4 linked regions of the Homo sapiens genome follow. The protein of the gene in region 1 purifies or fractionates together with the protein of each later gene. This does not show direct contact. Each region holds a gene or a part of one and is shown on either strand. Other genes may lie near its edges.

Region 1 (3,762 bases):
TCTCATAAGAGATTGTACCTGTAGTCCTAGCTACTCAGGAGGCTGAGGTGGGAGGATCACCTGAGGCTGCTGGTTGGAGGCTGCAGTGAGCTGTGGACATTGCACTCCAGCCTGGGTGACACAACAAGACCCTGTTTCAAAAACAAAACAAAACCAAAAAAGATAAAGTAGGTAAGGCAAAATTTGAACATTGGTTTGAAGGCTGAGCTGCTTTTCAAATACCTGTATACTTTTGGTATTAAAACTAGTTTCTGTGGTGTCTGTTGTTGTGAAGTTGTCTAATGAGGTAGACTTTTCGATTTTCATTTTTGTATCTTATTGTGGCTTATGTAAGGATATAACAGGGAGATGATTCATGATTGCAAAGTCAGAAATGTGAAAATTAACATCGTTGTATAAAGTGGTGTGTAGAAGCTCTTTGTCACATAAGTAACAACAGCGGGGTTTTGTTTTTTGTTTTTGTTTTGTTTTTGAGACGGAGTCTCATTCTGTCGCCTGGGCTTGAGTGCAGTGCTGCGATCTCAACTCACTGCAATCTCCGCCTCACAGGTTCAAGCAATTCTCCTGTCTCAGCCTCCTGAGGAGCTGGGACTACAGGCGCATGCTGCTACACCCGACTAATTTTTTTTATTTTAGTAGAGATGGGGTTTTACCGTATGGCCCAGGCTGGTCTCGAACTCCTGAGCTCAGGTGATCCGCCTGCCTCGGCCTCCCAAAGTGCTAGGATTTCAGGCGTGAGCCACTGCGCCCGGCACAACAGCGTTTTTAACACTAAAGAACCACGTTAGAAACACTGAAAAAAGGAGACATTTCCAGGAGTTTGTAGTTTAGTTGGGATATCTTGCAATACCTACAGGATACAATTAGAAAATCTGCTGGTATTTCATGAAGAGGGCATACGCTTTTATACAAACAGTGGAGTTCTAGTTGTATTTCTCTCAAATATTTGTAGGAGGGGAAAGGGAGAATCTTCAAGAGAGACAGCGCTGGTCAGAGCATGCAGGAGGACGCTGAGCCTTGCAGGCACTGAGGGTGGGAGTCCCGGCAGAGAAGGGGACAGTATGAGTGACTCCCAGAGGGTGTCGTGGAGACCATTAGGTTTTAGGTCAGCTTCAGAACCTGGAAGAGGACATCTCAGAGTCTGGCGACCCTGACCAGGGCTCTTGCAGGCACGCCTGGAGTGTGGACCAGATCTTTAGATTGATGGGACAATGCGAGGTCAGGAGGGGTCCCGGTTTGCTCACCGACTGCCTGTCGTATAGGATGGAGCGACACCACTGCGTGTGCATGACGATGGAGCTGGGTAGGGGAGGCTCAGAACTCATCCGAGATGACACCTTGCCTGCGGCTTGGCTTGCTTGAAGGGTCCCCCCATGTGACCTTGGAGATGGTATCCACCAAGCCCTCACCCACAACTCTGGCTCCAAGACCAGAGCTGCTGGCACCAGCATCTGATGCGATGTCTTGTGTTAGGAGAGGCACGGAATGCCTCAGGAGACTTGGAGGTGGACGCGTTGGACCTCTGCAGTTTCTGCGCCATCCTTGGCCTCCTGGGAAGGGTCCCTGCTGTCTTATGCTGCAGACGTAGGCCATGAGGACGTTTCCCGGTGCTGGGGTTGGGGCACGGTCAAGTCTGGAGATGCCCTTCCACGAGCGGGTGTCGCCAGTGCCTTTCTAGCTGAGAAATGAGTGAAGCATGGGGGAGACGGGTGTGTTCACTGCAGTCCTCTCACCTCCAGACCAGACGCTGACTCCCTCGCAGTTGGTGTTCTGTCACTCTTGATTTTACTATTCCTAACCCTCTGAAGGAAGTTCACCAAACCACAGAAAGAGTGCTCCAGGACAGTGAATTGATGTTAGAGATGATGACAGGGTGTCACTGGGCTTCTGCGTCTGACCTCTCACGTCCAGACAGACATCTTCCAAAGGCCCAGCTCTGGCTGTCTATTAGCCGCGTGCCTTTCGGTGAGTCATTTAACTTCTCACCTTTCCCAGGCTGAGGGAGGGACTTTGAGGTTGGTTTCCCCCACCACGACCCTGATCCTCCAGCTCTGTGACAGGACAGTGTGCGCTGCTTGGCTTTCAGAGCTGTTCTGACGGCACGGCATGGGAAACGCCTGGGTTTGGAGTGAGAAGGTTGCGTGGTTCTTGCTGCCTGGTGACTTCGGGGCTTCTAAAGCCTCAGTTTCCCCCATTTCATTTTTTTTTTTACATGACATAATGCTATTAATAATTTCTGAAAGTTTCCCCATTTCTAAAATGGAGATAACTACCCATTGCGAGGACAGGAAGAAGCAGGGCATTTGAATGCATTTTAAGGTGCCATTTAAATACAGGTTCTGTTACTTCCAGGCCTGCTGGGCACTGAGCAGCTGTGTGGCTTTGTGGGTGACCTACTCAGCCCGTGCCTCAGCTTCCCCAGTTGAAAGATATGGATACTTTTTCTTCTTAAGGTGATATGAAGGGGTGCAGGTGGTGGCATTCCAGACCAACCCAGGACATGTGATGGGGAAGAGGACGTGTTGCAAAGAATAGGTGGTAGGGCCTGTCTGGAGCTAGGTAGAGGGGCCAGCAGCTGGGAGGGTGCGCTGGGGCCACATGGCTGTGCCCTCACTGCACCGTCTGCACAGCAGGCTGTGGCAGGTGCTAGGGGTTTGGGAGACCTGAGAAGAGGCTGTTGAAATTGTCTTACTTGGGCGGCAGAGAGCTGGCTTGGGAAACAGGCGGTGCGGATGGGAAGGGGAAAGCAGGTGGCAGTGTGGCCTCTGGAGAACTGTGGCGCTGACACGGGCTAAGCAGGAAGGTGGGTTCCATTTGGGAGGACCTGGGTCCCAGCAGCCTGGGGTGTGCTGTCTGGGGCTGCCGAGGGGCAGAGGGAGCTTGGGGAGGCCCTTTATCTAGGCTCCGTGGGACCCTGTGCTGTCACTGAGCACTTGCTGTGTGTGAGGCCTGGGACCAGGCTTGGGTGTGGGGAAGTTCCACACGGTTCTTGCTTTCAAAGAGTGCACTGTTGGCGATCCTGCTTCTGCACCCCACTTCCCTGCAGGCTTCTCGATGGTTCTCCTCATTGTGCAGACCACACTCAGCCTCTGTGGGCTCAGCAACAGTCACAGATGGACCTGGCTTTGGCCTTCTGCTTTTCGCTGGGTGTCCTGCACCCAGAGAAGCCCACCTAGTTTTGTTTACATCATCTTACCTTTCCGTCTCTTGCCTTTCTCCTCCCATTTTTCTTGTTGCTTCTCTGTCTTCCCCTTCAGTCATCACCTTCTGTTTTCATCTGAATTTCTCTGAGCTGAGTCAGGTGGCCTCACACAGGCTGTCATCGTATTCTACCAGGTGTCTCTGGTCCCACTTTCTATTTCATTTCGCTTGAGCTGTACTCAGTGAGCCGAGGTCAAGCAGTGAAGCCACTTCTGCATCTGAAATTTTAGGGGTGAACCAGAGGCCACCTTCAGTTTCTGCTCTGAAGTTTGTGATTGTTTTTTAAAAAGCATTCCAAGTTTAGGCCGGGCGCAGTGGCCCATGCCTGTAACCCTAGCACTTTGAGAGGCTGAGGCGGGAGGATTATCTGAGTTCAGGAGCTCGTGACCAGCCTGAGCAACATGGTGAAACCCCGTCTCTACTAAAGTACAAAAAAATTAGCCATTGTGGTGGTGTGCACCCATAATCCCAGCTACTCGAGAGGCTGGGTGCCGGAATTGACTGCCTGGGAGGCAGAGCTTGCAGTAAGCCAGGATTGCACCACTGCACTCCAGCCTGGGT
Region 2 (3,762 bases), on another chromosome or scaffold:
TTTTTTTTTTTTTTTTTTTTTTTTTGAGACAGAGCTGTGCTGTCACCCAGGCTGGAGTGCAGAGGTGTGCAATCATAGCTCAATGCAGCCTCAAACTCCTGGGCTCAGGTGATCCTCCTGCCTCAGCCTCCCGAGTAGCTGGGACCCAGGGAGTCCTCGCAGGCGTCCTCTTAGTCCAAGGCCAAGGACATCATTCACAGATGGCTGAGCAGAGACCCAAGGTCCAAGGGGGTCTCAGCCAGGACACCATCTGTCCAGTCCCACTCCCATGCCCAGACATGGCTCCTTCCAACCTAAGAGGGCCCAGGCATCCTGACCTGCCCTGGGAGGCTGTCCCCTGCATGAGTGACCTCTGTCCCACCCCCTAGACTTGGAGATCCCAGCAGCAATGTTACCACAACAGTCGGAGAAGTCTTGGGCACCGGTGGCCTTGGGCTCTGGCATGGGCCGACTCAGGCCCAGGTCGCTGGGGGCAAGGGGGCAGGAAGGTGCTTCCTGCTTGAGCTCTCGGATGGCGTGGTTGGGGAGCGCCGTGCTGTACAGGAAGCTGGCCATGGAGGAGGAGGTGGCGGTTGGGGGCAGGTCCTGGGGTGGCACCTTGGGGGCCTGGCCATGCAGGCCACAGTCCCGTGACCCCTTGGGAATCAGGGAGACACCGTTCAGCTCCACCAGGGCCTTCGAGTCCCGCCCGCCATCCTCAAGTGGCCTGAGTAAAGGAGAGGACACATGGACAGCTTTGTACATCTGTTTCACACATTGCAGCTCTTCCCCCGAAAACCCCGCATCCCTGCCCTCTGCAGAACATAACAGCCCCATGAGGAGGGCAGGACAGGAGCTGCTCTTCCACTTCACAAGTGGGGATGCAGGCTCGGAGGTGGGAATGGTGTGCCCAGGGCCACAGAGCTAGGCCACCGGAGGACCTGGGCCCTGCCCCTCTGCTCCAATCCACTGTTCAGATCCCGCCAGGTGCGGTTGATTGCCTCCTGTCTCCTGCTGCACCCCTCCCCTTCCTGCCTCTGCATTGCCTGGGGCACTTAGCAGAGATGGGTTCAACCTTAAGCCCTCAGGCTGCCTTCTTGGCTCTCCTGACAACTGGTACTGCCTCAGACCAGCCTCAACAACCTAATCTCCCCTGGATCCCTAATTAACCCCAGATTTACAACCTGAGCAAGCACAGGACATGGTTCTCCCGTTTCTGACACCTAAAATGCCATATTTTTTTTTTAAGAGATGGGGTCTTGCTCTGTTGCCCATGCTGGAGTGCAGTGACGCAATCACAGCTCACTGCATCCTCAAACTCCTGGGCTCAAGCAAGCCTCCTGCCTCAGCCTCCTGAACAGCTGAGATGACAGGTGTGCACCACCACACCTGGGTAATTTTTTTTATTTTTATTTTTTGGCAGAGACAGGGTCTTGGTATGTTGCCCAGGCTGGTCTTGAACTCCTGGCCTCAAGTGATCCTCCCACCTCAGCCTCCCAAAGTGCTGAGATTACAGGCATGAGCTACTGTACCCGACCACTTTGGTGCTATTTTGTCCCAAGTCATGTCTCTTCAAGTCTCTCTGCAATGCAACTTCCCTGGGAAGACTTCAAGGCTTAATGACCTGGCTCAGATCCTGTTCTATGACTTCGCTTTCACTTCACCTCCACCATCAGACTGGGAGCTTTCACCACCAGGGTCCCCCACGGGCATCTCAAGTCCCTTCCCCTCTGGCTAAGTGGCCTCCAGCCCCCGGCCCTGACCCGGCCCTGGCCCAGCCCCAGCCCAGCCCCGGGCCGGCTACCTCACTCACCTCTTGAGCTTGAAGCGGATGCGGTGGCTGTGTTCCAGGATGGCCATGAGGGCCTTGGGGTCATACTCGGCTGGCCTTCGGAAGGCCAGGCCTTCGGGCAGCCCCTGCACGGCCAGCAGCCCTGGCTCCCTGAGCAGCCTCTCATAGGGCAGTGGCACCACACTGGCCCTTCCCAGGGCCTCGCCTGTAGGGGAGAGTCCAGGAGAGGGGCCTGGTATGAGAGGGCAGCCAGGCTGGGGTCGGGGCTGCTGTGCCCCAGAGTGGGGGCAGTGCTGAGTGGCTCCCCTTGGTGCGGGGTTCCCATGGACCCCTCATAACTGCAGACTTTGTGCAGAATAACCGCCTGCAGGCTGGGGGTGGGTGGTGTGGACAAGGCCCAATTGTCTGCATCTGGGGGGCTGGGGCTCCCCCACCAAGCAGGTTCCCTGCTGCCCTCCCCGACCAAGCCCCTCTCCACTCTGGGCACCTGGCTGGAGGGGAAATCGGGGACTCAAGGGCCCAGAGGACAGAGCAGAGGCAGACAATCCGGTAGGAGAAAAGAGGGCAGAAGAGACGGAGAAGTGGGGACTTGCATGAGCCAGGCTGCAAGGAAAAAGCTATAAGGGCTGGGCGTGGTGGCTCACGCCTGTCATCCCAGCATTTTGGGAGGCTGAGGAGGGAGGATCACTTGAGGCCAGGAGTTCGAGACCAGCCTGGCCAACATGATGAAACCCCGTCTCTACTAAAAATACAAAAATTAGCTGGGTGTGGTGGTGCATGCCTGTAATCCCAGCTACTTGGGAGGCTGAGGCAGGAGAATCGCTTGAACCCGGGAGGTGGGTTGCAGTGAGCCGCTGCACTCCAGCCTGGGTAACAGAACGAGAATCCATCTCAAAAAAAAAAAAAAAAAAAAAAAGGTGTAGGGAGGAAGGGAGAGAGACCGAGAGGGGGGAGAGAAAGTAAGAAGAAGAGGAAGTGGAGAGGGAGCAAAAATAGGGGATTGAGAAAAAGATGGGAGAGGCTGGGCGTGGTGGCTCACGCCTGTAATCCCAGCACTTTGGGATTACCGAGGCAGGTGGATCACTTGAGGTCAGGAGTTTGAGACCAGCCTGGCCAACATGGTGAAACCCCGTCTCTACTAAAAATATAAAAATTATCCAGGTGTGGTGGCAGGTGCCTGTAATCCCAGCTACTCAGGAGGCTGAGGCAGGAGAATTGCTTGAACCCAGGAGGGGGAGGTTGTAATGAGCCGAGATCATGCCATTGCACTCCAGCCTGGGCAACAGAGTGAAACTTCATCTCAAAACAACAACAACAACAACAACAACAACAACAACAACAAAGACAGGAGAGAGGAGAAAGAGACAGACTGAGAAGACGCAGGAACAAAGATGGGGGCTCGGGGGCACAGAGGAGGGGAGGCAGGCTGGGGACTGAGGACTGGGCACTGGGATATCTGTTGTCACCTCCATGCTACAGCCCCCACCCTGAGCCAGAAAGAGGCCCATCCTCTCATAGCCTCCTTGAATTCTGCCCAAAGTGGACAAGGGGGGCCAGGGCAAGGCGGGCAGGGGCGCGGGGCCCTGCAGCTGGCAAAAGTGTCGACAGAGGCACAGCCAACCATGCGTGGCAAGTCCCCCATCCCAGGGTGGCCAGTGTGACCACCCAGGGCCTCTGGGTACCCCTCCTTCTGACATAAGAACAGCAGAAGTTTCCTCACAGACCTTTGCTCCATAAAACCAAAGGCTACAGTAGGAGAAGGGATAAAGCCAAATCAGAAATGAATGAGGTGGGACCCTGAGCACCAAAGGGACCTGCCCGATGTTTCCCAGGGCGTGTGAAGACCACCACTGGGGCCCTGAGGCCCTCTGCAACCTGACGCTTCCCAAGGGAGGCCAGGTCTCCTCTTCCTGCAGGAAAGACATGGCTGAGCAATCAGCCTTCACTTAGTCATTCAACAAACATTCTCCAAGCACCTGCTGTTGCTGGGC
Region 3 (3,762 bases), on another chromosome or scaffold:
GTGCACAGTGAAAATAGGTCTCCTTCCCATCCCAGGCCCCCAGGGGTAACTATAACTGATGAACCTCAAAGACAAAAGCTATGATTTCTCCCCCACAAAATATTTTTGTAACAGACCCCAAGTCAAGGCCTAAGGGTTTGACATTTCAAGCAAAATTCTTAAACCTAAAAACAGTGGAATATGATATAAAGCAAACCGTTAACTGGATTACACTATCTTATTTCAAAATCCCATGCAATTAAATACCTAAAGAATCAAGCCATTTATGCCATCTAAAAATACAACTGAAACCCTTCAAATACTATCTAATTCTAACTATGAATTCACTGGTTAGAAAAACCACAATTCATTATATTTGGTATTGTTGTTCCACACCCTAAGTTAACGCCAAACTAAATATCGAATAATTCAACTTCACAAACACTTCTTCCCTTCAATAAAGGAAACCGTAAAAATACAAAGTCCTGGCTGGGCGCGGGGGCTCACGCCTGTAATCCCAACACTGTGGGAGGCTGAGGTGGGCGGATCACAAGGTCAGGAGTTGGAGACCAGCCTGGCCAGCATGGTGAAACCCCATCTCTATTAAAAAATAAAAAAATTAGCCGAGCACCGTGGCGCGCACCTGTGGTCCTAGCCTAGCTACCCGGGGGGCTGAGGCAGAATTGCTTGAACCTGGCAGGCGGAGGTTGCGGTGAGCCGAGATCATGCCACTGCACTCCACCCTGGGTGACAGCGAGACTCTGTCTCAAAACAAAACAAAATAAAACAAAAAACAAAGTCCTACAAAAATAGAATTTAAAATGACAGAGTATGAGACACAGTAACATTTCTTTAAAAATGAGTACTGCCGGGCGTGGTGGCTCACGCCTGTAATTCCAGCACTTTGGGAGGCCGAGGCAGGCGGATCATGAGGTCAGGAGATCGAGACCATCCTGGCTAACATGGTGAAACCCTGTCTCTACTAAAAATACAAAAATTAGCCGGGTGTGGTGGCATGCGCCTACAGTCTCAGTTACTCGCGAAGCTGAGGGAGGAGAATTGCTTGAACCCAGGAGACAGAGACTGCAGCGAGCCAAGATCACGCCACTGTATTCCAGCCTAGGTGACAGAGCGAGACACCTTCTCAAAAACAAACAAAACAAAACAAAAAAACCGGGGAGTTTTACTTTTGTACAGAATATCTTTTTAGTGTTTTTAATGTTTTACAAGCGGCCAAAAATGGTTACTTGTAACTAACAAGCAAGCCGTTACTTAGGAGAGAAATGATGACTCCAAAAAAAGTCTAAACAAAAACTCACTAAAATACTTCCATAAATTAGTATTTCGTTTTAAAAGAAATGTGATTTCTCAATGATATAAAGGTTCTATATAAAGTATGAAGACATAACACCAAATATAAAACAGGAAAGAAAAACCATTAAAATGTTTCCTGATAAATGACTGTTTCCACTGATACCTATAAAAAGGTGGTTCAAGTTTTTTAAGAGGCTACAAATATTTTAAATAGTTGTAAGCTAAAAATCATCAACTACTACATGTCACTAGAAACAAGGAATTTATTCTAATGGATAATCAATCATCAACCAGACACATCAAAACTAAAAGAAAAATCTATTCATCTTCTGCTAAAAATTAAATCTTTAAAACAGTATTAAGTGCATACCCATTAAATCCAGTGACAATTTTCAGTATTCTTTCCTTCATTTCATCAAAGGGAATATATTCGACATTAGGGTTGGGAGGACCTCTTGGCTCAGGAGCTGAAGTTCTGAAATCATCCATCACTTTCTCCAGTTTGAAAATAAAATAGCCTTTAAATTGGGACCACTGAATCCTATAAGCAAAAAATTAAAAAATATATAATACCATGTAGCTTCACAATTCTTGAACACAAAACACAAATATAAAATATACTATGACACTAATACTAACAAAATTAAGATGTGAATAATTAGTAATGAGAATGCCGTCATTGAAGAGCACACATCATGCCTCATTTATCACAAGCTCCATCCTGATGCTATCCAACTCCCAACCCAAACAAAACCCAGATCTCTCATTTAGATCTTTTAAATGAACTACCTCTGCCTGAAAGTCTATGGTGTGTTAGGTCCTATTCTTAGTATGTTTAAAATAATATTTTGACTCTTTCACTCATAACAAACCTAACCAGGTGGGCATTAGTTACACTATCCTATTAAGTCAGAATGAATCCATACCTTAATCATCCAAGTTACAATGTTTGCATGGACTAGTAAAATTTGTCTATTATCTACTAAATAACAAAATAAACTTTACTTTCTCCTTTTTTTTCCCCTTTCAGTTAATATCTTCAGGCTCTTTTGTCACTTAAGAGACAAAAGGCATGTACCTATGATTAAGGCACATAATCACAGGTTCTATCCAACCAGTACTTGCACAATAAAAATACATAATTTGCTTAGGTACTTTTCACATCTATTCATTTATCAAATTAACATAAACACCTTTTTATCCCTCTTTCCTCACATTTCACCAGTAATATAAAAGGAAATTTTGTGAGGATACCTGCCTGAATAGTGTAAATTCCAGGAGACACGGGAGTCAGGAATGCTAACCATTTCCTCAGGCAGACAGTACTACCATTAGTGACAGCAGATCAATCTCTTTACACAGGTTGACTACTTAAACAAATTTACACAAATTAACGGGAGCCCATCTGTAATCACCTTCCATCCCATGCAGCAACCCTATAAACTAGGGTAGCAGTTTTCAAATTGTGGTCCAAGAGGTCAAAGCTATTGTCAAAAGAATAAGGGCTGACTAGTTCACTGTTAATGTGTGCACTGATGGTATAAAAGCAAGGTGGATAAAACTGATAATCCATGTAGCAAGAGTCAGGACAGCAGCACCAAACTGTATTACTAGCTGTAGCAGAAGCCAGAATTTTCACAAACTCGTAATTTTAAAAATCTGTTCCACTTAAAGTGTAAAAGATATAAAAATTACTAATTTCATTAAATCCCAACCCTTGAATACATCTTTTACATATTCTGTGTAACAAAATGAGAAACAGGTATTAAAAAAATTATGCTGCATATCAAAGAGGTATGAGATTCTCAAAGAACAATACCTTTATTTAGACCGCTGCCAGCTGAACTAGCTATTTTTCATAGAACAGCATTTTAACCTGAAAGGACTGCCACACAAATAAAGCTTATTTAGATTAGCAGACTGGGTGTGATGGCTCACACCTGTAAACCCAGCAGGCGGATCACCTGAGGTCAGGAGTTCGAGATCAGCCTGGCCAACATGGTGAAACCCTGTCTTTACTAAAAATACAAAAATTAGCCAGGCGGGGTGGTGCATGCCTGTAATCCCAGCTACACAGGAGGCTGAGGCAAGGAGAATCACTTGAACTGAGGAGGTGGAGGTTGTAGTGAGCTGAGGATTGCATCACTGCACGCCAGCCCGGGCGATGAGCAAGACTCCATTTCCAAAAAAAAAAAAAAAATTAGGAGAATGTGGTAGACATTTTCTCAAAAATAAATAAAGTGAACCTGTCATTTCAAGATAAATAACTGACAGTATTTGTTACCAATGATAAAAATTTGAACTTCTAAGCAAAAAACTAAAAGTCTGGACAATTTTTATTCTTCACTGTGAGCTTGAAAGCTTCCTGATATAGTCCCAAAATATTCTGAAGGCAACCAGTGTCGACATAAAAATATTATACGAGGCCAGGTGTGGTGGCTCACGCCTGTAATCCCAGCACTTTGGGAA
Region 4 (2,756 bases), about 88 Mb from region 1:
ACATGGGCAGGCGTGAGGCACGCACAATGGCCTCCCGTGTGTCGGCCATGTCGGTCACCACGCCGTCCGTCAGGATCAGCAGGATGTAGTATTGCTGGGGGCACAGGAAAGGCATCAGCAACACCACACCTGCCATGGCCCACATGCGCCCTGCAACCCACGGGCCCCCAGACAGCCCAGAGTGCCTCCGTGCGTCAGAGCTTCCTAGAACCGCCTTCAGAGTGTGATGCCTACATCACAAACATCACGAACAACAGTGGGTCAGGAGCCCCCTCCGTGGCGGGCACTCTGGGCCTCCTGTGCCCAGCTCAGGAAATCTCCACGAGTCTCACGGAGGGCTGTGGAGGGGGTGCTACGAAGTCTACATTTTACTGATGAGCTCACAGTGCCTGGATGGGAGGTCTGAGGCCAGAGGAGAAATCTGCGATCCCAGGAGCCAGACCTGCAGCCCACACACCCTGCTCCAGTCTCTCCAGGGTGCCCGCTGTGCTGCCACAAGACTGAGTGTTGGCCGGACGCGGTGGTTCACGCCTGTAATCTCAGCACTTTGGGAGGCCGAGGCGGGCGGATCACCTGAGGTCAGGAGTTCGAGACCAGCCTGGCCAAAATGGTGAAACCCCATCTCTACTAAAAATACAAAAACTAGCTGGGCGTGGTGGTGGGCGCCTGTAATCCCAGCTATTCGGGAGGCTGAGGCATGAGAATCGCTTGAACTTGGGAGGCAGAGGGTGCAGTGAGCTGAGATCGCGCCATTGCACTTCAGCCTGGCGATAGAGTGAGACTGTCTCCAAAAAAAAAAAAAAAAAAAAAAAAAAAAAGGCAGAATGGAACTTCAAATAAAATCAACTTCCATTGTTTAAAAAAAACCCCACTCAATAATCTTGCCCAAACTGTGGACAACGGGAAACATAAAGAGAAGCAGGGCTCGCCTGAGCAGCAGAGCGGGAGCCCACAGCAGCCTCCCCTGGGCTGGCCTTGACTGAGCCCGTCCCACTGAGGGCAGATGTGTCCTGGAAACGAACAGGGGCCCCAGGACCCCACTCAGAGTCGCCTTCTCCAAGAGGCTCTCTTTTTGTGCCCTCCCCATCTCCCCCTCTCTGAGCCCCACACCTGTGGGAAGAATTACCTGTTTGCAAGGCAGTCTCTGGTCCAGGCCTACAAGCACCCACGGCTGTGCCCAGCCTGGCTCTCGGCCTCCAGATAAACAGCCCAGCCTCAGAAAGCCCCCCACCCCCTCCCAACCCCAGATGAGGCCCCCACCCCCCTCTGCCAACTGTGCGAGCACCAGGCACCAAAACCCACCGTGGGGCCCCACTAGGGCGGGAGCTTCGTGTCCAGGAGAGGGACCGAGGGCTCAGCTGATCATGTCTGAGTCCTCGTTTCAACCCAATTCTAACCACAGAAAACCATGTCACGGGTAAGACAACAGGAAACACAAACACCAGACGGATGTGCAATGCCAGGAGTGGTGGTTAGGTGTGATCAGGTGTCGTGGCTGCTTAAAAAGAGGCTTATCTTTATTAGACGCTGATACTGACATTTACAGATGAAACCGTCTGAGACCCGCTTCCCAGCCACACAGGAACATAACAGCTGAACGCAATCCTCGACTCCGGACTGGCTCCTGGGCCAGGAACAATACTGCTTTGAAAGTTATGATTGTGCCAATGAATGAAATTGGAATATAGTCTATGTATTAGATAAAAGGATTGTATCTAAATTCAATTTCCTGAAATCTGTATTTGTGCTATGGTTATACAAGAGAATATCTTTGATCTTAGGAAATATACACTGAAATAGTAAGAGGTAGGCCGGGCGCGGTGGCTCACGCCTGTAATCCCAGCACTTTGGGAGGCCGAGGTGGGCGGATCACGAGGTCAGGAGATCGAGACCATCCTGGCTAACACAGTGAAACCCCGTCTCTACTAAAAATACAAAAAATTAGCCGGGCGTGGTGGCGGGCGCCTGTAGTCCCAGCTATTTGGGAGGCTGAGGCAGGAGAATGGCGTGAACCCGGGAGGCGGAGCTTGCAGTGAACCAAGATCGCGCCACTGCACTCCAGCCTGGGTGAAGAGCGAGACTCCATCTCAAAAAAAAAAAAATATTAAGAGGTAAAACCGTGATGTTGCAACGTGCTCTCGGACGGTTCACAAATGTGTGTGTGCAGTGCCAAGTTTTTTAAAAAGCATCAAAGTCTTTATCACGATACTATCTGTATAAATTAAAAATAGATGCAAACAGATATAGGGTTCCCATTTGGCTTGAAGATGTAAGTAGACGGGTGATGTTTGATCATCATGAATGTACCTCGTGCCTCTGAACTGGATACAATAAAATGGTTACAGGCCAGGTGCGGCGGCTCACACCTGTAATCCCATCCCAGCACTTTGGGAGGCTGAGGCAGGCAGATCACTTGAGGTCAGGAGTTTGAGACCAGCCTGGCCAAGACAGTGAAACCCCATCTCTACAAAAATATAAAAATTAGCCGGGTATGGTGGCGGGCGCCTGTACTCCCAGCTACTCAGGAGGCTGAGTCAGGAGAATGGCGTGAACCCGGGAGGCGGAGCTTGCAGTGAGCCGAGATCACGTCACTGCACTCCAGCCTGGGTGACAAGAGTAAAACTCCATCTCAAAAAAAAAAAAAAAAAAAGAAAAGAAAAAAATGGTTACAATGGTAAATTTTAAACTGTGCATATTTTATCACAATAAAAAAAATTTGGGCTGGGCGCGGTGGCTCACTCCTGTAATCCCAGCAC

The links. The genes of interacting proteins can lie anywhere in the genome.
Region 2: the proteins of CRAMP1 (region 1) and GTF2IRD1 purify together in Homo sapiens (affinity purification with mass spectrometry; one large-scale study listed by BioGRID and IntAct). This does not show direct contact.
Region 3: the proteins of CRAMP1 (region 1) and PPP4R2 purify together in Homo sapiens (affinity purification with mass spectrometry; 2 studies listed by BioGRID and IntAct, with this or other methods). This does not show direct contact.
Region 4: the proteins of CRAMP1 (region 1) and CPNE7 purify together in Homo sapiens (affinity purification with mass spectrometry; one large-scale study listed by BioGRID and IntAct). This does not show direct contact.

The regions. Positions count from the first base shown.
Region 1 is NC_000016.10:1,618,727-1,622,488, forward strand, and holds part of CRAMP1 (protein cramped-like), read left to right. Parts: intron 1-3,762.
Region 2 is NC_000007.14:74,516,353-74,520,114, reverse strand, and holds part of GTF2IRD1 (general transcription factor II-I repeat domain-containing protein 1), read right to left. Parts: intron 1,977-3,762; coding exon 1,793-1,976; intron 707-1,792; coding exon 396-706; intron 1-395. UniProt on the Homo sapiens protein: May be a transcription regulator involved in cell-cycle progression and skeletal muscle differentiation. May repress GTF2I transcriptional functions, by preventing its nuclear residency, or by inhibiting its transcriptional activation.
Region 3 is NC_000003.12:73,045,258-73,049,019, reverse strand, and holds part of PPP4R2 (serine/threonine-protein phosphatase 4 regulatory subunit 2), read right to left. Parts: intron 1,835-3,762; coding exon 1,664-1,834; intron 1-1,663. UniProt on the Homo sapiens protein: Regulatory subunit of serine/threonine-protein phosphatase 4 (PP4). May regulate the activity of PPP4C at centrosomal microtubule organizing centers.
Region 4 is NC_000016.10:89,592,705-89,595,460, reverse strand, and holds part of CPNE7 (copine-7), read right to left. Parts: exon of another isoform or gene 1,497-2,756; intron 95-1,496; coding exon 1-94. UniProt on the Homo sapiens protein: Calcium-dependent phospholipid-binding protein that may play a role in calcium-mediated intracellular processes.